7 linked regions of the Homo sapiens genome follow. The protein of the gene in region 1 interacts with the protein of each later gene in a pairwise test. Each region holds a gene or a part of one and is shown in the gene's direction. Other genes may lie near its edges.

What was found.
Region 2: the proteins of REL (region 1) and SHC3 interact in binary tests that used the Homo sapiens proteins (3 or more experiments, as listed by UniProt).
Region 3: the proteins of REL (region 1) and TTC19 interact in binary tests that used the Homo sapiens proteins (3 or more experiments, as listed by UniProt).
Region 4: the proteins of REL (region 1) and PRDM10 interact in binary tests that used the Homo sapiens proteins (3 or more experiments, as listed by UniProt).
Region 5: the proteins of REL (region 1) and LASP1 interact in binary tests that used the Homo sapiens proteins (3 or more experiments, as listed by UniProt).
Region 6: the proteins of REL (region 1) and RAB29 interact in binary tests that used the Homo sapiens proteins (3 or more experiments, as listed by UniProt).
Region 7: the proteins of REL (region 1) and EFHC1 interact in binary tests that used the Homo sapiens proteins (3 or more experiments, as listed by UniProt).

What each region holds. Positions count from the first base shown.
Region 1 is NC_000002.12:60,912,574-60,916,073, forward strand, and holds part of REL (proto-oncogene c-Rel), read left to right. Parts: intron 1-3,500. UniProt on the Homo sapiens protein: Proto-oncogene that may play a role in differentiation and lymphopoiesis.
Region 2 is NC_000009.12:89,005,271-89,007,818, reverse strand, and holds the end of SHC3 (SHC-transforming protein 3), read left to right. Parts: coding exon of another isoform or gene 1-301; 3' UTR 302-2,048; downstream 2,049-2,548. Other genes in the region: uncharacterized protein LOC124902206, read right to left, coding at 1-301. UniProt on the Homo sapiens protein: Signaling adapter that couples activated growth factor receptors to signaling pathway in neurons. Involved in the signal transduction pathways of neurotrophin-activated Trk receptors in cortical neurons.
Region 3 is NC_000017.11:16,006,324-16,009,823, forward strand, and holds part of TTC19 (tetratricopeptide repeat protein 19, mitochondrial isoform 1 precursor), read left to right. Parts: intron 1-150; coding exon 151-245; intron 246-2,654; coding exon of another isoform or gene 2,655-2,683; exon of another isoform or gene 2,684-2,741; intron 2,742-3,500. UniProt on the Homo sapiens protein: Required for the preservation of the structural and functional integrity of mitochondrial respiratory complex III by allowing the physiological turnover of the Rieske protein UQCRFS1.
Region 4 is NC_000011.10:129,922,836-129,926,335, reverse strand, and holds part of PRDM10 (PR domain zinc finger protein 10), read left to right. Parts: intron 1-1,106; coding exon 1,107-1,454; intron 1,455-2,932; coding exon 2,933-3,088; intron 3,089-3,500.
Region 5 is NC_000017.11:38,897,558-38,901,057, forward strand, and holds part of LASP1 (LIM and SH3 domain protein 1), read left to right. Parts: intron 1-854; coding exon 855-962; intron 963-3,500. UniProt on the Homo sapiens protein: Plays an important role in the regulation of dynamic actin-based, cytoskeletal activities.
Region 6 is NC_000001.11:205,767,486-205,769,984, reverse strand, and holds the end of RAB29 (ras-related protein Rab-7L1), read left to right. Parts: 3' UTR 1-1,999; downstream 2,000-2,499. UniProt on the Homo sapiens protein: The small GTPases Rab are key regulators in vesicle trafficking. Essential for maintaining the integrity of the endosome-trans-Golgi network structure.
Region 7 is NC_000006.12:52,451,342-52,454,841, forward strand, and holds part of EFHC1 (EF-hand domain-containing protein 1), read left to right. Parts: intron 1-1,346; coding exon 1,347-1,496; exon of another isoform or gene 1,497-2,753; coding exon 2,754-2,946; intron 2,947-3,500. UniProt on the Homo sapiens protein: Microtubule inner protein (MIP) part of the dynein-decorated doublet microtubules (DMTs) in cilia axoneme, which is required for motile cilia beating.

The sequences.
Region 1 (3,500 bases):
GAAGTTGCAACAGTGCTCAGAAGTATTATAAAATAGAAATAAATCATTTCCAAAAGAGAGATTTCATTTTTGCCCAAAATCTTTCTTCTAAGCTATAAAAGACAAAACTGTTCAATACACAGTTTTGTCAATTTAAATCTACATATTCACCCAATTTTTATAAGATAAAATAAAAATGTATAATTATTGAAAAAAGAATTGAGAGCCCAGAAACAGAGCTAAGGAAATATGCGACTTTAGTGTATGACAGAGGTGGCATGTCATATCAAGAGGAAAGGAGGAAATGTTTGAGAAATGAAGCTTGAAAAAAAAATAGTTATTTAATTAAGTCGGATTCCCTACCTCACATCATATACAAATATCAGCTGAAGATGGATTAAAGGCTTTAAAAGTGAATCAACATTTTAAAAACTTTTGGTAGACTATGTTGGTAAACATTTTAATCCTTGAGGTATAAAAAGACAAGACACAAAGTGTTTTCTATAAAACTTTTGATAAATTTGATTATATTCTTAATTTCAATTTATTATATTTTTCAGTTCTAGAATTTGATTCCTTTTTTTCAGTTTCAAGTTCTCCAGTAAACTCTCAATCTTAATTCCTTGAATATATTAAGTATAGTTACTTTAAATTATATGTCTGAAAACTTCATTATTTGGATCCTTTGTGGTATGTTTTTATTGCCTGTTGCTTTCTTTTAAAAAAAAATTTTTTATTTTGCCTCCTCATATGTGTGGTTATTTAAGATAAAATACCAGTCATTTTCTGTGAAAAAGAGTAAAGATTTTAGGCCTACAATATTATCTCCCTGCAGAAAATTTTCTTCTGGCTAGTGGCCGGGTACACTAGCAATCCCAGGTCACCTAAAATCAGTGAATGATTTAGGTTATTTGAAGTTGGGCTTTCATCCCTGAAATCTGATATGTTTCCAGTTCACCCTTACTCCTAGGGTATAGCTCTTTCAGACCTCAAATCCCCCAAAGCCTTGGGTATTTATCAGATCCCACATCCTTGGCAAACTCTCAACTCCTTTATTTTTTCCCTATAGTTTATTGAGAGTTCATCTCAATCTTCTTAACCATCTCTTAGAAAATTGTCAGGCTATATTCAGATAAAAGTGGCCTCTCATTCTGAACTGTGGGTTTTCTTCTCTCATATCTTGGTCGCATGGTTTTTCATGACCTTGTTAGCTCTCTAATGTCATTAGAGAAATTTTGTTTCATATTTTGTCCACTTTATTCTCATGGTTGAATTGGTCCAGTTTACAGATTATCATCTATCATTACCAAAGTAGAACTTCTTTTTATTAACGTTTACTTTATGCTTTCTTCAGTAACTTGTAAAAGTATCTAAATGTTTGGTTGTTCAATAGGACTTTAAGTAATTCTTCAGTCATTTATGTTAATTGAGAAAATGTATAATAAATATCACTACTAGGTTCAACACCTAGTGGAGATACATCAGACATCCCTTCTGACTTCATTTGAAACTTTGTCTAATAGGATAGAAGAGGCATACATAAATGATTATCATGTAAGATTTTAAAACTTTTAAGGGCATAAGAAAGGTATAGGTCAAGTCTTGCACTGATTTAGAGAGGAGAAATATTCCCTCCATTGCAGAGGATGAAGTTAGGCTTTATAGAAAAGAAGCTTTGAGCTGGGGTTTCAGCCTTACACTGAATCTTGCATTGGGTAAAAACGGGTATCTGTCATGATTCTTGCCTGTCAGTAGTTTTTAACCATGTTGTGCAGAGATGAAAGTAATTCTGATGCAGTAGTAATTGTATTTCCACACATTGAGAAGATTCAAAGCAAAATCTCATAAACAGTGATTTTTTTTGAGAAGTAAGTAGAATTTCTTCCCTGTAGTAGAACTATTATGTGACTAAATGTTTTTGAACTTTGGCTTATTGACCAGTTTGTTTATTTTTCTTTTATGTGCCATTTAAAAATATTTAAAATAAACTTTTATTGAGATACAATAAAATCTACCCGAATATGTCCTGCTACATAACCACAATCAAGCTATGGAACATTTCCATCACCCCCTAAAATTTCCCTGGTCCCCTTCTCGCTCAGTTCCCTACCCTGCCTCTGCCTCAGGCAATTACTAATCTGCCTTCTGTCACTGGAGATTAATCTTTTCTAAAACTGCATGTAAATGGAAGCATACAGTATACTTTTGTATCTGGTTTCTTTTGCTCAACATGGTTTTGAGATACATTCATTTGGGAGTGTATACCCATAGCTTGTTTTTTTGTTTTTTTTTTTTTTTTGAGATGGAGTCTTGCTCTGTCGCCCAGGCTGGAGTGCAGTGGCACAATTTCGGCTCACTGCAAGCTCTGCCTCTCGGGTTCACCATTCTCCTGCCTCAGCCTCCCAAGTAGCTGGGATTATAGGCGCCCGCCACCACGCCTGGCTAATTTTTTGTATTTTTAGTAGAGGCGGGGTTTCACCGTGTTAGCCAGGATGGTCTCGATCTCCCAACCTCATGATCCACCCACCTCGGCCTCCCAAAGTGCTGGGATTACAGGTGTGAGCCACCACGCCTGGCCAGTTTGTTCTCTTTTATTGCTGAGTTTATTCCATTGTAGGTCTATACCACACTTTGTTTATCCATTCACAGAGTTCACATAGGTTTGTTTTTAAACTTACCAGGAACATCTAGCTACAAATTTATCTTTTTTGCATATTGATTACTCATCTTTGCAATTGAGAGACACTAATATCTTGAATGCTACATTTATAATGCTGTAAAAATGGATTTTGAAGAGGTAGCTCTCATATTGCCTACACAATAGTGCCAGTAGAGTATGCTGCTGTAACACAAGTGTTGGTATCATAACATTTTGACCTTTCAGTTGTACAGAGTACAGATGTGTTTTTATGCACTGTTTCAAAGATTAAGCATAAGAATGCTAATACTGGGATACTTATAAATGTTGTGATAGCTAAGTAGACTCTCAATGTCATTAAATAAAAACAGTACAAAATACATTATCAGTTTTATTAGTTATTGCCTGTAAAATAAGGAATTTGGGCTTAACTATGTTTCTAAATTTAGTGTTTCAAAATTTAATACTTTGCAAAGTAAAATTGTTATGTAAATAATGTGCATGTCTTGCTTTTTAAAAATATGACTTATTGCTATAGCTTATGGCATTTGAAAAGGCAATATTTTCTTTTGGAACTGGATTTCTGGTTCAAATACTAATTTAACAAACTATTATACTATATTCTATCATGAGCTTTTCTAGTTTTATAGAACTGTAAAATTTTTAATTAAAACATTTTTTAAGTTTGCACGTAAAATTTCTTATGGAAACTAGCTATCTTAACATTTTTTTGTTTCTTGGTATTTCATCCTTAAAATGTTGATCCACATTTAGTAGATACTCTTGTGTATGTCATTTTTATGTACAACACATGTACAATTTTCTAATAGATTTCAATTTTTAAAAGCATAGGCTCTAAATTTAATGACTTGAGTTCACATTT
Region 2 (2,548 bases), on another chromosome or scaffold:
GGGATTGGGGGAACCCACTGTGGGAAATGACAGAGAAGCCAGTGGGGGAAGACAAAGAAAGAAGAAGGTGGAGGCAGAATAAAGGTGAGAAGAAGGGAAGGGGAGGATAAAACAAGTCCAGATTTAGATCTTCCTTCATGCAGCCATGCATAGCTGTCTGAGGCCAGCAGGGAAGGAGGAGAAAGGGAAGGTGTGGTGGAGGAGGCTGTGCTCGTGATGTCATGCTTTCGTGTATTCCCAGGTGCAGCTGCATATACTTGGCACAGTTTCTTGGGATTTCTAGCCAGTTTCTTGGCCTCATTTGTGCATTAGTTAATATGTGGCTGGCCCTGTACTGGGATGGTGGGATAGAGAAGTGAATGTATGAGGCCTCTGCCTGAGTTTATAACCTAGAAAGAAATAAAGACACACACACACAAAGGTGTTGGAGTGTGACAAGCCTTAAGGTACCCGTGTGTCCAAGTAAAGTAGAACCAGCAAGGGTGGAGTGCCCAGGTCAGTCTGGGGACTCTGGAGGCTTCGCACTGCAGGCGTCAGATACTGAGTGTTAGTGGCACGGAGAAGAGTGTGGAAGGCTCAGGATGGGGGTGGACAGCCTGGAGTTGTCACTCTCAGTAGAGATGCTAGAAGGGGCGGGAGGTGATCCCAGCCTCCCTTCTTTCCTCCTCCTGGCTGTCACAGATGCTCTGAATTGATGAATCCTTCAGGCCAAAAACACACAGGCTCCTTCCCTAGGTCTGGAAAAATGGTTCTCGCTGAAAAAGCACCAGGAATAAAATCTCATACAATTTTAGGTGTCTATTTTGTTGTCTCACCTTGAAATACTGCAGACAGAAAAACATGCACATGGGGAGCTGTGGTCCTGAGCTTTGAGGTAATGAATTCCCACTCATGTGATCATTTTTACCATAACCAAAGTTTCTAACCATCAAAATCAAGTGACAATTAAAACAGGCATTAATGGATAAATCCGTCTTTAAATATTAATGGGGTTAATTTTGTTAACAGCTATGTGTTGGTTGCAAGTGGAATGTTCTCTGTTCATTTGACTTTTGAATATAACTTGTTCCAGAATATTGTAAAATTAAGTATGTGAATGTTTCTTTGTATTCAGAATTAAACATTTGGTGTTAAAATCCCAGGATTAGGAGACAACTCCATGTAAATTTAATGTGTAATAATAAGATAATAACTTTTTAAAAAGCATTTGGATGGCAAATTATACATACTGACAAATGAATATTATCTGAAAGTTGTTTTGTTTCCATTAACTTTTGTGAAACAAAAAGAATTACTGTAACAGTCTATGTCTTGGCGTATTGCCAATTCACCACTTTCTACTTTGTGCTGGAACAGAACTGGCTTTTTTGACATCCCTGAGGAGTGGAAATGCAAAACGAATTTCAAGTTCTCTAATCTTTGTTCTATGACAAATGAAAAAACCTAAGTTATCTGGTGTTTTGGAGATTTGAGAATACAGCAGGTGAAGAGAATTAGCTTAAATTCCCTCCTCCCTTTTGATAAATCCACAGGGATTCCTTCACTCTGTCAGGAAATGGTGTGGTTTCCAAGCATTAGCCCTTCATGATCTGTCTGGTGCATTTCTGTGCTCCTGGGATCGCCAAGTGCAGGCACGGCATCGCATCCCCAGGTGTCATCCTGTGACCCAGGAGGGGAAGATGACACACCCAATTTAGGTAATGCTGCACTTCTTGTTATAATTGGTTATTGGAAAATGTGCCTTTATTATCAGAACAGTGGTGTGCGCATTTCTGATTATGGAGCTAACTTTTGGATATCTGACTTAGATACTAAAAACATTTGGGTGTTGCAGTTTTGCACTTGTAGATACAACTTAAAAGCATGAAACTGGTGATTTAATTAGATGTTTTCTATAAAATGCACCTTGTTACATTTCTGTGAAAGGGTCTTACCAGCGTGGAATAACTGGCTCAAGGGTTGAGAGAAACAACCATTTTCTAAACAGTTAATTGTTTAAAGGACTATACATGTAAGTCTGCAGGCAATAAAGGCTGTTGTGAAAAGTATCTTTCATTTGGATGATGGATTTTGTATTGCCTCACAAAAGAGAGGAGGGGAGCTTGAAACTTTTCTCTAAGAAGTAGGTATTTTCAGTGATTCCCTGGGGGACTGCTTAAAAAACAGTCACAACAAAGCCTCGTCCCATTCATCAAGGCTGCGGAATGAAAATGCATCCGGGCAGATGTACTCCTAGAGAACTCACCTTACCTTCTAGCTCTGGGGCGGGCAGCTGCGTCCTCACTTGCGTTGGGACATTTCATCATGAGTTGTAACAAGCATCGCTACCAGAACAGTTATGCCGAGCACTGGCCTCCTCTTTACATAGCAAGTGGGACAGAGAGGCTAAAATGGACCGTTTGTGTGGGAGAAAGCTAGTGTGCAAAGGTTGGTTCTGACCTATTCTCTCCTGCTGCATAAACAACAGCAAATGGGGCAGGACAAGAGGTCCCATGTCTTTGAGCTGCACTTTTATTACCATGGGTCTTAGAAATTTCTCCCTATCAAA
Region 3 (3,500 bases), on another chromosome or scaffold:
CGCTTGAACCCCGGAGGTGGAGGTTGCTCTGAGCCGAGGTCACGCCATTGCACTCCAGCCTGGGCAACAAGAGCGAAACTCCATCTCAACAGAAGGAAGAAAAAAAAAAGAAGAAAAGGTAAATGGCTGATTATTGATTTTGCTTTACAGACAGGAATTTGCTGTTGCTGGCTATGAATTCTGCATTTCAACTCTAGAGGAAAAAATTGAAAGAGAAAAGGAATTAGCAGAAGACATTATGTCAGGTAGGAAACCCATTATCTGGGCATTGCCTTTTCTCCACAAAAGGCTTTACTTTACACTTTTGAGAAATGGAAAGAGATCTAAATTGGGAAGAGGGAAAGTTACCTATTTTGCAAAATAAGTGTCTGTCTTTAAGGTATCAGCAGAAGTTTTGGAATAAGATGTTTTATTTAAAATATTTGACTGCTGTTTTGGTGGTGGTTTTTTTTTTAACCCCCTTGGTAACATGGTCATAATTTATTTGTTAACTTTTAGTTACATATAACTTAAGGAAAATTGGGGAGCAGAAGGAGAAGGTGTTTCTCGTATCTCTTAGTTCAGCTACCAATCAAAATGCTTATTACGTTTTAGCCCTAGATATACAGCAAATTAAGAAAGAAGAGAAAAAAAGCTCATGTTTTTACAATCCATCCTCACTCATTCTGGAGGCTAGGAATAGAACTGGATGAGCAGGAAGCTCTCTAGCTCTCCACCATTTTGGGTTTCTTAATTTGGGTTGAAGTATTGAGAATTTTCAGATTTGACATTTATTCAATACCTACTCTATACCAAGAGCTACCGAGATGGTAGGGATACAGCAGTCAACTCTTCTGTACCTAGTGGTCTTCTAACTCTCTCTTGAACATAGAGTAGTCCCCCGTTATCCATGGGGAATATGTTCCAAGACCCCCAGCAGATGCCTGAAACGACTTCTAATACACTGTGTTTTTTTCTTATATATATGTACCTATGATAAAGTTTAATTTATAAGTTAGGCACAGTAAGAGATTAACAACAATAACTTTTAATAGAACAATTATAACTATATACTGTTAACAGTGTCACAGACAGGAGATTCATTCTTATTGTAGATCTTATCAACCTCAGCATACAGTTTTTTGTTTTTTGTTTTTTGTTTTCTTACTAAGTTGAGAACTTTCACCTTTTCATTAAAAGGAAGCACTTTATGACTTCTCTTTGTCATATTCAAATTGCCAGTATCACCACTCTCACACTTTGGGGCCATTATGTAAAATATGGATTGCTTGAGCACAAGTACTGCAACATTGTGGGTTGATCTGATAACTGAGACTGCTGCTAAGTGACTGAGGCCAGCTGCCGTATACAACTTGGGTACACTGGACAAAGATGATTCATGTCCTGGGCAGGATGGAGTGTGACAGTGTAAGATTTCTTCATGCCACCCAGAATGGCATGCAATTTAAAAACTTACGGATTATTTCTTGAATTTTTCATTTAATATTTTTCGGACTCTGGTTGACTGCAGATAACTGAAACCCCAGAAAATGAAACTGTGGAGTAGGAGGGATCACTGTACACCAATTTTTTTGTTTTCATCACTCCACTGAAGCTACCTTTATCAAAGTCACCAAATCCAATGGTTACTTCTCAATCCTTAACTTACTCATCAGCAGCTTTAACTTAGGGGATCACTGTCTCCTACTGAAAATACTTTCACTTGGCTTCTGGGATGCCTCACTGGTCTCTCTAGTGAGGTGAATAGACTTCCCTACCTCTTAATGTTGGCACGCCTTAGGGCTGTTTTCAGCCCTATTCTCTTTTCTCTCTGCCCCAACACCTAGGAGATATCTTTTAGTTCCATAGTTTTAAATATTAGATTTATACCTTCAGCCCCAACTTGCCCCCAAATGGCAGACTTATAATTATGATTGCCCACCCGACATCTTGACTTGAAGTCTAATGGTCATCTCATACTTAACATGTCCAAAATAGGTCTCAGTTTTGCCGCTCACAACTTGTTTCGTCACCAGTCAGCCCCAGATTTGTAAATGGCACACTACTCATTTAGTTGCTTTGGCCAAGAACCTAAGAATTGTCCATGATTTCTTCCTCATTCCTCATATCTAATCCATCAGCAAGTTATACTGGATCAGCCATCAAAATATATCCATACTGACCATGTCTCATCCCATTACCCTACTGCTTTGGTCCAGGCCATCACTGTTTCAAGACCTCAGTACCTTTGTATCACCTTTAGAATAAATTTAGAATCCCTGCATGGACCTGTAAGGCGCTTATGACCTGGGCCCACCCACCTCTTCCATGCCATCTGCTGCTCTCCCCTTGCTCGTTCCAGTCTCACCACACTGGTCTTATTCTGGCACATTCCAAGCTTAGTGCCACCTCAAGGCCTCTTTGCTTGATATTCCCCCTACCTAGACTGTTCTCTCTTACCTTTCTCTGGCCAACTCCCGTACTTCACTCAGGTCTCTGCTCAAATAGCACTTCCTCAGAGTGCTCCCTTCACTAAAACTATCATCTCTTCCCACCTTACTATTGCTCTACTCCTCTTTCCTTTACTTTTCTTCATCACACTTAAAAGTAGAGGTGTGTGTGTTGTGTGCTTGTGTTTCTCCACTAAAAGTATGTTTTTGTTTAAAAATTTTTAGTCTTTGTCTTCCATATCAAAGAAGGATAGAGACTTCATCCATTATACTCAGTGCTAAATCCTCGGTGCCTAGAACAGTGCCTGGCACATAATAGAGGCTCAATAATTACTGAATGAAAGAACAAAAGACCCAAGAAAGACCAGCAAATAAATCCAGTTTCAGTGCAGTGTGGAAGTGCTTTGAGGAAATCCACAAGAGGTGTAAAAACAAGTCTAGCTGTCAAGTAAGTCACTTCTGAACTATTTACACCTTTGCTGTCTTTCATTTATAGTGTTGACTATGGTTTCTTAGGAGTGTAAAGCTATATTTTCTGATTCAAAAAATAATACCAGTAAACACTGAAGAAAGTTTAGAAAAGCACTAAGTAAAAATCATCTGTAATCATACTATTAAGAAAGAGCTACTGTTTTATTTATTACTACGGCTTTTCGGGTTACATTTTAAGAAATAAATTTGGGATGATACTGTATATCCTACTTTGTAACCTGAGTTTTAACAATTTAGTAACATATTATGAAAACACTTTTTTTTTCCAGGCAAAGGAATTCTTGTTAGATAGAGCAAGCTAATTTCTATTATAAATATTATTTTTACATTTTACTAGTTGCACAGTATAGAAAATGTGTTACATGATTCTTCATCTTATTTTTTCTAGAAAAGGAATTCCTACCTATTCAGTTTTGCACAAAGCAAATCCATTATCAAATTTACGTGCTTTTTATTGACACAACTATCTCTATTCTAGGATAACATTACTTAATTACATAAAATTACATTACTTAATTACATAAAACCTTGCTCTAGGATAATTATTTTGTTACCTATGTTGTAGACATATATGTACTT
Region 4 (3,500 bases), on another chromosome or scaffold:
TAAGCATAACTGAAAGATTGATTCTGCATTCTCTGTGTGAGGTGATTTTGTCGATCTGCTGTCAGTAGAGCATGAGTAGATTTTCCAGTAGTGGCGATGGGTTTGCACTGAGTACCCGTACTCTCCCACTTGGATGCCCTATAACAATTGCATGAATTTACAAGATGGCCAATCAGCATTACAAGTGCAATCTGTGCCTGAAAACAAAGAGCAGAATTGCCTGGTCGAGGCAGGAACAGTGTGATGAGCTTAACGTTGTTAGCATGGCATTCTAACCAGTAGAACTAACTAGCTATTCTGGAACCTTACCTTCTGTTTTCTAAGTAGAAAGTGATGAAATGCATATATTCCATTTACGACATGTGCTCATGTCCCATTCACATAAATCTGAATCCTTTCAAGAAATTCTCGTGGCATAAAGTTTACCCTTTAAAGTGGTTTTTAGAACATTCTGAAGCTGTGCAATCTTCACCACTCTCTAATTCCAGCACACTTTCATCACCCCCAAAAGAAACCTGGTATCCATTACCCCCAAAAGAAACCTGGTATCCATTTCCTTCTCCATCCTGCCGCTGGCAAGGACTACCCTTCAGTTCTTTTTATTGTTTTTTTGTTTGTTTGTTTGTTTGTTTTGTTTTTGCTAAATGTTTTAATCAAGCTTCAAATTCTTTTTCTCATGGATTTCAACAAGTAACATTTGACTGACTTGCTCCAGCCTGATTCCTGCATGTGTGACTTAACCTAAGTCTTTTCCTCCAAATCTTCCATTTTTATCCTGTTCCACTGTGGGATTTGTTTTATTATACAAGTCTTCTATTGGGAACACTTTTTTTGTTACTTAAACCCTTTCAAAAGAAAACCCACATACATAGATGTAAAACAAAACACAAAAAAATTTCATCTCTTTAAGATGAGCTTCTTTGAGGATGGCTTCATTTTCAGTGTCTTCACCAGAAAAATCTCCTTTCAACTGTGTGTGTCCTAGAGTTGAACTTCTATGGGAAGTCTGTGATTGCAGAGATCATCCTCTCTTTCTCTGTAAAAGTGTGATCCAGTTGCACTCTTAATTTCATCACTAAATGATCACATTTGTGTATGTCTTTCAGAATGCAGCTCTTCAGCATCTGTTTATTCGGAAGTCCTTCCGGCCTTTTAAATGCTTGCAGTGTGGGAAGGCCTTCCGGGAAAAGGACAAACTGGACCAGCACTTACGCTTCCATGGGCGGGAGGGGAACTGCCCACTGACCTGTGATCTCTGTAACAAGGGCTTCATCAGCAGCACATCCTTGGAGAGCCACATGAAGCTCCACTCAGACCAGAAGACTTACTCTTGCATTTTTTGCCCAGAATCCTTTGACCGCCTTGATTTGTTGAAAGATCATGTGGCCATTCATATCAATGATGGCTACTTCACCTGCCCAACTTGTAAGAAACGGTTCCCAGATTTTATCCAGGTGAGTGTCTACTACTGAGATTCCTGTCTGCTTCCTTCTTTTGGTAAAAGAAACTTCGATTTTTGGAAAACCGAGACTGCCTAGCACCTGCATTTCCATCCCTTCTTTGAAACAACTTTACAATTGAGAACAATATTTCTTCAATCAAACTACTTTTATACACAAGATTATTATGACCCTTAATTGTCCAGATCAGACATTGACATTGAAGTGTTTAAGTTACAAGTAATAAACACCCAGATCTATTATAATTTTTAAAAAGTCTTTCATAATCCATGTCAATGTCTATTGCTTATAAAATATACCGAGCCTGTAGAAGACATACTCCCGTTTCTGAGGGGCTGGGAACATCTCCCTACTACTACTGTGGTTTCCTGCTTGCTTTAACCAAGGCCATACATTTTGGAAGGAAACAAAGAGAAAGTTGGTATATAATATACTTTTGTATCAGGAACCGACTGCCTCCTCCCCTGTAGTGTATTCTTTGTTGGAGCAAAATGGGTGAAGATAAATTTCAGAATACTCATGATTTCATTTGGACTTTAAGTGATAAGATTTTCCTGTGCTAGTCAGTGAATAACGAAACATTTTGTAAAAATACACTTTTTCAATTACCAAAGGAAAAGAAGACTAGGGATTTAATTTTAGTTCTGCTAGTGTTGAGAGTCTTGGAAATTTTCTCACTTCACACAAACTAGTAGAAAGATTGCTTTAAGGCATAATTTAATGGCAAAAGAAACTCCAAAAATAATGAAGCAAACTATCTTATAGGAATAGTTTGGTAAGACTCACTACTTAGCTTCCATCCTCAGCTCTTTCTCATTGGATATGTGTGGCTAAGAGAGTTCAGAAGCCCTATTCCTTTATTTATCTAAAAGTAAGGGAAGTAAGTCCCAGTTGAGAAGTGACGCCAGCGTCATATTGCTCTCACAAACCGGTAATGTCTTCTGTATCCACTCATTCATGTCTTTAATTCTTCAGAACTTAATTTTATAAGAAGATGTAAAAGGATCAAAAGGGGCTAAATTGCTTCTGTGCAGATTAAAGACGGAGAAAAGTAAGGAAGAATTGGTTTTTGTCTTCCTATAGATCCTTTTTAGCAAGATTTCATTTAAACCCAAAGGAACTTTTGCTTTTTATCTTTAAAAAATGGGCTTCAAGTGATCAGGGCTTTGACCAAGCAAGCACTCTCTCTCTCTCTCTCTCTCTCTCTCTCTCTCTCTCTCTCTCTCTCTCTCACGTTTCAAGTCATCGGGGAGGTTCGGATTTCTAAGGCTTTCTGGCTACTTGTTTTATTTCTTTGTGACAGGGACAGTATGTGTTATTGAGGCCAATTATCACATCTGATTGGATTCCTCGGCGGGGTTGATGAAAACCCATGGTAATGCGTTTGGCTCCCTCTAGCGTTGACAAGCTGCCTTTGGTCATTTCATTTGGTGCCTGCGTCCCCTGAATTTTCCTGTGGTTCTTATCACCAGGTGAAAAAACACGTGCGCAGCTTCCACTCAGAAAAGATCTACCAGTGCACAGAGTGTGACAAGGCCTTCTGTCGCCCCGATAAACTGCGACTCCACATGCTCCGGCATTCGGACCGCAAAGACTTCCTGTGTTCCACCTGTGGGAAGCAATTTAAGGTATGACACCAAGGCACAGCCCAAGGTGGTTCTCGTGGCCACTGGAATTATAGCAAGCTGAGGGTAAATGCCTGTTCATTTCATCAGTTTATCACCCACCTCTGATGAACTGGACCTGAGATACTCTTTGGGCCTTGTGTTTGACTTAGTTATAAAATTAAGGGGGAAAACTTACTCATTTCCTCAAAATAGTTAATTCAAATCCCCAAACAAGTAGAGTAAAAATGCATCATCTCCTAAAAGAATCCAAATGTATAATGACAAGTATAACTAAATCGCTATTGAGATTTCCTAACAGACCAAAACCTTTACTTAACATTCAGATCAGGAGGTTTTTGTTGAGCACTGATGAAGTATAAGAGCCCGTAATTGAGCCTTGCAGCCAGCAGGACGCTCATCTAATTCAGGTGGG
Region 5 (3,500 bases), on another chromosome or scaffold:
TGTTCCTCATATTTCAATTCCTTTCGTGCCAGGGAAGTCCTTTCTGATGTCTGACTTGAGTCCCTCTAGTACTGTGGTGGGGTGGAAGGGTTCTTCCCTGGAGCTTGGAGACCTGCTGAGATGCTGTCTGACCCCCGCTGCTTTCCTCCCCTCCTATGGCGGTGGCCTCTGAAGCCATCCCGGCAGGCTCCCAGAATCCGCGGGGCCTGTCAAAGGCGCACTGATGGAGCCTTCCCTGGGGCTGTCTCACCACCCTCCTTTCTGGGCACCAACTCTGTCCTTTGGCACAGCCCTCACTCAGCTGGTTGCTGAAAAGCTCCCCCAGGCGTAGTGGGCAGGGCCACATCCTGGCTAACATGAGGGCTGGGGCCACCCTGGGAGCCCTGGAAAGAACCTTTTTCCTATAAGCTTCCAGACAGGATGGGCAGGGAGTGAAGGGTCAAGAGTCAGGCAGATGAGGGTTTGCACTCTGGTAGTGCCGGACATTGACTGCTAAGCTCTGTGACCTTGGGCAGGGGACTTTGCCTTTCTGTGGCTCCGTTTCCTGATCCGTAAATTGGAGCTGTTAATTGCGTGGCTATATGTATGGTGGGATCTAAATGAGATGGTTCATGTAAGGCCCTGGACTCTGTGCCTGCCATTCACTGTGCACCAAAGACTTGGTAGTGGCTTATTATTACGAGTCTAACACCTTTTGGCTGAGGCCTCTGCTTTGAGTTGGGGACTTCTGATCAGGGTCTTTCTGCTGACTCCCTGTCCCTGTCTCCTGACTGGTTGCTGCCTCAGAGGGGCCCCAAGCCGAGGCCCTTTCGGCTCCTGGCCTGACTCCAATCCCTCTTCCTCCCCTCCTGCAGGTGCGCTACAAGGAGGAGTTTGAGAAGAACAAGGGCAAAGGTTTCAGCGTAGTGGCAGACACGCCCGAGCTCCAGAGAATCAAGAAGACCCAGGACCAGATCAGTAACGTGAGCTCTTGCCCTGCCCTGCGGCATCCCTGCTGCCCTCTGTTTGGTCCCCTTCCTGCCAGCCTGGCAGACGCAAGCCTGGCAGATGTGAATGAGGCCAGTGCCTCCACTACCCCTGCCCTCCAGGGTGGGCCTGGGGAAGAGCTTGGGGTTCCCAGATGCCTCTTCTCTGTGTACCCCCAGACCACCAGCACGCATAGCATTTTCTTCTTGAAGGGACTGTATTCTGTGGGGGCCTGTGTGCTAAATCAGCCCCCACTCTCTCTGACTGTTGTTCTTTTTTCTGGATATCGTGGGTATCGGTGAAGACTGCATGTCTCATCTTAGCACAAAGGTCAAAACTGGGGGGCGGGGAGCACCTGGCCTCCCCTGGTCTGCGCCTGGGTGCTGACATTGCAGTCATTTCCGCCCTTCCTTGGCCTCCTCCCCCACATCAGCCTGCTCTTCCTTCCTGTGTAAAAACCCCAGCCAGCTTCACCCGCCAGCCCTGCACCCCCTGGCTCACACCCCCCGCCTCCCTGATGGTCAGTGGCATCTGGCTGTGGCAGGGGTGGGCATGGAGAGTGGGCAGGGGATCAACTGTCCCCAGCATCGTGTGCCCTCCATGGCACCTGTGGCCAGAGAACAGGCCTCAGTTTCCTGCTTGGCAGAGCCACAGGCAAGCAGCCTGTGTGGCTTTAGGCATGCGGGGGCAGGGCACTGCGGTGAGCAGCAACCATGGGGGATGCGCACACAGAACTGCAGGGGCTGCCCAGCCAGCCTGGCCTAGGAGGTCCTGCCAGGGAGGGTTTAGGCAGGCAGCTGTCTTCGTGTCTGGAACAGGAAGGGATCAGTGAGCTGCCCATTGTTGCTCTGGGCTGAGGAACTGGGGATAGAGATTGCCGGGGGAGCCTGGCTTTCCGGTGGTCTCAGCACCCACTCCCTGGGCTCCACATCCCTTCCTACCCTCCACCTGGCCACCTCAGCAGGGCGCTCCTTTAAGAGCTTGGCTGGGCCGTGCATAGAGTGGGCTGCAGTGGTGGGTCAGGTGGATTTCAGAAGCACAGGCAGCCCACAGACAGCAGAACCAGCCATGCCCAAAATGGTGGCTTTCAAACTCTGACTTCAGCCTACAGTAAAATATACATTGTACGTCTTGACCCATCTGACAGGCATACATTTATGTAGAGGGAAAACAGAATGGAAGCTTTCATGAATGAGTACTTCCTACTTAGAGGGCGTTCAGATCTTTTTTTTTTTTTTTGAGACAGAGTCTCACTCTGTTGCTCAGGCTGGAGTGCAGTGGTGCTCCGCCTCCAGGGTTCAAGTGATTCTCCTGCCTTAGCCTCCCAAGTGGAGTAGCTGGGATTACAGGTGCACACCACCACCCCCGGCCAATTTTTGTATTTTTGGTAGAGACAGGGTTTCACCATGTTGGCCAGGCTGGTCTTGAACACCTGACCTCAGGTGATGTGCCCGCCTTGGCCTCCCAAAGTGCTAAGATTACAGGTGTGAGCCACCGCACCCGGCCACATTCAGATCTTTTCTAAAGATGCTGGTTGCAGGCCCCTATACACCCTCACATAATACAGCCCCTTTGAGGACTGTATTCCCAACACTTTGGGAGACTGAGGTGGGAGGATTGCTTGAGCCCAGGAGTTTGAGACTAGCCTGGGCAACATAGCAAAACTGTTTCTACAAAAAAAAAAAAAAAAAAAAAAAAATACAAAAACTAGCCAGGCATGATAGCACACGCCTGTGGTCCTAGCTATTCAGGAGGCTGAAGTGGGAGGATCACCTGAGCCCAGAGGTTTGAGGTTATAGTGAGCCGTAATTGCACCACTGCATTCCAGCCTGGGAAACCGAGTGAGACCCTGTTTCCAAAAAAAAAAAGGACCAGGCGCGGTGGCTCATGCCTGTAATCCCAGCACTTTGAGAGGCTGAGGTGGGCGGATCATGAGGTCAAGAGATCGAGACCATCCTGGCCAACATGGTGAAACCCCATCTCTACTAAAAATACAAAAATTAGCTGGGCGTGGTGGCGTGTGCCTGTAATCCCAGCTACTTGGGAGGCTGAGACAGAAGAACCGCTTGAACTCGGGAGGCAGAGGTTGCAGTGAGTCGAGATCGGGCCACTGCACTCCAGCCTGGCGACAGAGCAAGACTCCATCTCAAAAAAAAACCAAAAAGATGCTGGTTGCAGACTTACTGTGAATGGGTTTTGCAACTGGACTGTTGACCTGCAGTTTGAAGTTGGTGGCCTGAGGAAATGGCATGCTTCCCTTTGGCTAGCAGGGGATGCCTAGGGCGGGCACTCTAATCCTCCTTCCCCTCCAACTTCCAGAGGCCTGTCACAGTTGACTCTTTATATGCTAGGGCCTGGCCTCACGCCCTGGAGCTTCCCTTTGGCTCAGACCCTGCAAAGGGTAAGACCCTTAGGTCTGTGTTTCAGAGCTCTCGGCTTGGAAAGTGGGGGAGGGGGAAGATGGTCTTAGATTATGGGGAAAACCCGGAATGGTTCACAGAACTGGAATGTCGGCTCTTCAGCCTCTGCGGCTT
Region 6 (2,499 bases), on another chromosome or scaffold:
ATTCATTGATATCATGACTTCCAATTGAGAGGAAAATGAGATCAAATGTCATTTCCCAAATTTCTTGTAGGCCGTTGTTTCAGATTCTTTCTGTCTTGGAATGTAAACATCTGATTCTGGAATGCAGAAGGAGGGGGTCTGGGCATCTGTGGATTTTTGGCTACTAGAAGTGTCCCAGAAGTCACTGTATTTTTGAAACTTCTAACGTCATAATTAAGTTTCTCTTGTCTTGGCATCAAGAATAGTCAAGTTTTTTGGCCGGGCATGGTGGCTCATGCCTGTAATCCCAGCACTTGGGGAGGCCAAGGCAGGCGGATCACATGAGGCCAGGAATTCGAGACCAACCTGGTCAGCATGGCAAAACCCCGTCTCTACTAAAAGTACAAAAATTAGCCAGGCGTGATGGCACGTGTCTGTAATCCCAGCTACTCTGGAGACTGAGGTGGGAGAATCGCTTGAGACTGGGAGGCAGAGGTTGCAGTGAACCGAGATCATGCCACCGCACTTCAGCCTGGGTGACAGAGAAGGACTCCGTCTCAAAAAAAAAAGAAAAAAGAATAGTCATTTTTAAACTACCTATCTCATGCAATGAAAGCATTTTCTTCCACAAAGAGCTTAATCCTCATGATAGGATTGCCTAGTGTCTCCCATTTGCAGGTTTCTGGGTTGATGTCTTAATGCATAATACTGCAAGTGACATCAGCTGGCTGTGATGCTTCGAAATAGGTCTGCTCCTCACAGCTTTGGGAATCTGAATGGAAGAAGAAAAGAGAGAAGTTAACAACCTCCACTGGGGCAACTTTGTGAACACGTAGGCACTTAGTCATAGGAAACATATTATGTGCAGGTCCTAGCCTGGGGGAGGAAAGTAGATAGACAGAAAATCATTAGGTAATTTAAGTACTAAATTGGGCAGGGCTTTTTAGTATCAAATCACTACTAGACCATTTAATTTGTTAAATTATCTCTAGGATGGTGATTTATAACCTACCCAAAGTTATCGATATTCTTACTAAACTCTGAGGCCTGAAGTTCTGTGATAGACCTTAAATAAGTGTCCTAAGTCAGTGGTTCCCAAATCTGGCTGGTCGGGAATACCTGGGAAGTTTGTTAAAATTTTTTAAAAATGTTTTAAGATTTTTGGGTCCTGAGCCAGCCGTGGTGGCTCACACCTGTAATCCCAGCACTTTGGGAGGCTGAGGCAGGTGGATCGCCTGAGGTCAGGAGTTCAAGATCAACCTGGCCAACATACTGAAACCCCGTCTCTACTAAAAATAAGAAAAATTAGCTGGGCGTGGTGGCGGGCACCTGTAATCCCAGCTACTTGGGAGACTGAGGCAGGAGAATCGCTTGAACCTGGGAGTTAGAGGTTGCAGTGAGCTGAGATCACACCATTGCGCTTCAGCCTGGGCAACAAGAGTGAAACTCCATCTCCAAAAAAAAAAAACAAAAAGAAAAAGATTTTTGGGTCCCGACCTCAAACCTACTGAATCAGAATTTCTAGGGATGAAGCCTAGGAATGTGTTGTTGTTTTCAGAGCTTCCCTGGTGATTGTGATAAGCCTGGTTTGGAAACCATTGCTGGAGAACTTTGTAAAGATACAGAGACCCAGACCTTTTGTATTTACATTTAAATACAAATACAAATCCTGGGTTTCTATATATTCTGTTAGCTTTTCAGGTGATTCTGCTACACAGACGTTGAAAACCACTGCCCTAAGAAAGAGATCAGAGGCCACATATCAGAGAGAAAAGGGACCAAACCTTCGGTGGTTTGTTGTGTGTCGTTTTAATGCCAATTATTTTAACTTGCACAGTCTTCTGAAACCTTGTATTAATAGTTCTCTTTTGTATTACCATTTTCAGGTAGGGTTTTGATCACTATGATTCTGAAGATAATAGTGAAATAGTGAATTTCATTGATATGAAGAGATAATTGATTTTCATTCATTGGTTTGAACACCTGCAAAATCACAAATAAATGAGAACTAAGTCTTGTATTCATGGTGGTTATTGGCCTTTAATGTGAGTTTGTCAAAGTGCTGTTTTATACTGATAGCTCAAGAGGATTGCGGAAATGGAGACTTTATTTTTTAAATACCTTTTTCTAAATTTTCAATTCAAGGGGTACGTGTGCAAGTTTGTTACATGGATATATTGTGTGATGCTAAAGCTTGGGTTTCTGCTTAGCCTGTCTCCCAAGTAGTGAACATAGCACCCAGTCGGCACTTTTTCAACGCTTACTCCCTCTCTCCCCACTTTTGGGAGTCTCCAGTGTCTGTTGTTCCCATCTTTATGTGTGTGCCCAATGTTTACCTCCCACTTACAAGTGAGAAATGTGGTTAAATACCTTCTTTTAAAATGAAGGTAAATATTATTCTGTTTACCTGTTAACTTACTAATACCAATTGCTTAGATCCATCTGCCTAGTACCAATTCAGTACTTGATGGAACATGCCAAATACTACTTGGAAACGTGACCTTTTTGAAAAACTGAATG
Region 7 (3,500 bases), on another chromosome or scaffold:
CTGTCAGCATTTGCTTATCAGAAAAGGATCTTATTTCTCCTTTGCTAAGAAGCTTAGTTTGGCTAGATATGAAATTCTTGGTTGAAGATTTTTCTTCTTTAAGAATGTTGAATATAGGCCCCCAATCTCTTCTGGCTTATAGGGTTTCAGCTGAGAAGTCCAGTGTTAGCCTGATGGGGTTCCCTTTGTACGTGACCTGCCCTTTCTCTGTAGCTGCTTTTAACATTCTTTCTTTCATTTTGACCTTGGAAAATCTGATGATTATGTGGCTTGGGGATGATCTCCTTGCATAGAATCTTGCAGGGATTCTTTGTATTTCCTTAATTTGATTGTTGGCCTCTCTAGCGAGGTTGAGGAGGTTTTTGTGGACAATATCCTGAAATATGTTTTCCAAGTTGTTTGCTTTCTCACTGTCCCTTTCAGGAATGTCTGGTGAAATTTGAGCACTTGGTTTGTCTTTCCTATTTTGCTAACACGTTTTCTGGTCTAATATAACCAGTGGGTATGCTTTCTTTTTTTTCTTTTTTGGTGAGGGGAAGGGACTTAATCATATACAGTATTTGTTTTAAGTGAATTAGAAAATTGGGAATATGATTTCAGCCTAACTTGGCCATTGTGCATCTTGCCTCCAGACCTAATAGGAATTACATATTGTTTGAAACCATGGTTAGGTTCCAGATATATGAAAGTAAGCAATCCTAAGACTTACTCTGTTACAGGCACCTAACTAAATTTGATTGATTTAAATTATTTGAAAACAGTTATTTTGCCATTGTGCCTCCCAACTAGCTTAGCAAATACCTAGCAATATAACAATATAAAATACTTCAGGTAACTCTCAATTATTACCTGCATTATGGAGTTGGCTCAGTTGGAGACTTAATACAGCTTACATGCGCTCAAGCAGCAAACTAATGTTTAACTTAAGCAATGGCATAGAAATCATTATTACACTTTTTCTTTCTTTTTTTCTTTATTTGAGGCGGGGTCTTGCTGTGACGCAGGCTGGAGTGCAGTGTCATGATCATGGCTCACTGCAGCCTTGACCTCCTGAGCTCAAGCAGTCTACTCACTTCAGCCTCCTGAGTAGCCTGGACTGCAGGCAAATGCCATCAAACCAGTCTAACTTTTAAATGTTTTTGTAGAAACAGGGTCTCACTATGTTGCTCAGGCTGATTGTGAACTCCTGCGTTTCAGGAGTCCTCCTACCTCAGCCTCCCAAAGTGCTGAGATTGTAGGCCTGAGCCACAGTGCCTGGCCCATACACTTATTTTTATATAATCAGTTTATAACTTACTCTGAAAAGCTCCAAGAAAGATGATCATTGTTAACTTTCAATTATTTAGGTATTTTTAGAAAGCCAAGGAATTGAGTTAAATCCACCAGAGAAGATGGCTCTTGATCCTTACACTGAACTCCGAAAACAGCCTCTTCGTAAGTATGTCACCCCATCAGACTTTGATCAACTCAAGCAATTTCTCACCTTTGACAAACAGGTAAGTGACATAGGAACCACAATAGGCTTACTTATTTCCAAATGTGACCTACATTTATTGGCAAAAGGTTTGGGTAGCTGTATTGGTAACTATTTTGAAACATTACAGCTATAATTGAACTGTTTGGACACAGTACTGTCTTTCTGCTTTCATCAAGGGTTACAGGTACAGGAATGCCTACATTTCATATGGAGATCCAAAGAAGATCGTGGAGTTGCGGAGTTGTTTTGTGAACCTCACCAAACATTTAAATCTCAAAGCAATTCCTGAGCTACATCTGCTTCCCACCTTACGTTTCCAATTGACAATTTCTTTCCCTTAAAATGAGCTAATTTCATAGACTCCTTTGTGAAACCATAAATCGATTATTAGGAAATTTCACAAATATGCATACATGTAGGTTGTAATGTTAAAATGTTTAATTTCACAGAAGCCCCACTACAGATGCTTCCTTGTTAAATGTTATATTAATATTGGAGTCCAGAATGTTCTGAGCATTTTCCAACTCTGTTCCAACCTTCCTAATCCTCTCCCTTGTGAGCTGATGTGTATAAGCAGATTTAAATCCTTCCCTTTCTGTACTAAAGGGAGAAAGAAAAGGAAGAGATCACCCTCAGTGCTTCTTTGCTGCTCCTTTTCTTTAGACATTTAACCCCTTTTAGTTCAGAAAATGTAAACTAGCACTAGCATGGTCTTTTAAGGATTTTGTTCATATCAGTCATATATCTGTTATTATTTTGTATTTAAAGATTGTGTTTATTCCCACGATTTGAAGAAGCCTAGCCAAAAAAAAAAAAAAAAAGATTGTGTTTATATTATTGCTAGAAGATATGTGTTGATGGGACCAAAAAAAGACTGGTTAATAAATAAAAATTTTTTCTACACTAATTATATATAAACCATATTCACATGTACCTTTATTAATATATATATACCACTATGTAAAGAACTTCATTGCTCTTTTAATTTAGCTTCTCTTTCACTGACTAATATTTTGGATCAAAGTGAGCTCTTCTTTTTTGGCACAAACTTATAATCCTATTATTTAATTCTTTCCAGCTGCTGACATATAGTACATAATTTCAGATGTTTTAGTATGTTTGATGAATATTTCTTTTTTTTTCAATTTACCCCATCTGAAATTACTTCATAGTCTTTCCAGCTAGTCTTTCCATCGTTGATACATAATTGCCAAAGTAGCCAAGTTGAACTCCCTACTTTTAGGATTCTTGAGTCACTACTTTGGATTCTTCAAAGGTCCTTCGATTCTATGCAATCTGGGATGATACAGACAGCATGTATGGTGAATGTCGGACCTACATCATTCATTACTATCTTATGGATGATACGGTGGAAATTCGAGAGGTCCACGAACGGAATGATGGGAGAGATCCTTTCCCACTCCTAATGAACCGCCAGCGTGTGCCCAAAGTTTTGGTGGAAAATGCAAGTATGTTTGATTCAGTTTATTCTCTGTTACTTGGGATGTTTTTAGGTTCTTAAAGGAGTTACTTAATCAGTATGCAAAATTCGTTTATACTTGGAAGCCTCTAGCTATTTTTGCTTAGATGCTCAGAAAATGGCTTCCCACAGCTTTCCTCCTTTACTTGCCCCTCGGTCCAGGCGTGCCCCCAAGACAGTCTGGTACCCAGGTCAAGGAAACAAAACCAAAACAACAGTGGGAGATTTATTTAAAGTGCAGCAGAGCAAGGTTTCTGAACTGAAACAATTTAATATTAGATTTTTAATGCATTTTTCAAACAGGCTTGTTTTCATTCAAGGATATGAATGAAAGCTTAGCTTTTCTTTATATGCTTTCCTGACTTTGCTTCTCACTTCAACTACTTCCTAAACAGGAAGTTTCTATGTGGTTTAACTTGAGATTGGAAAAGGCATGTCTGTGACTCATAGAGGTGAGGTCCATTGTGTCAAACCCAGCTCATTCTTTACTGGTTTAAAATTACCTAGCATGGGCTGGGCATGATGGCTCACTCCTGTAATCCC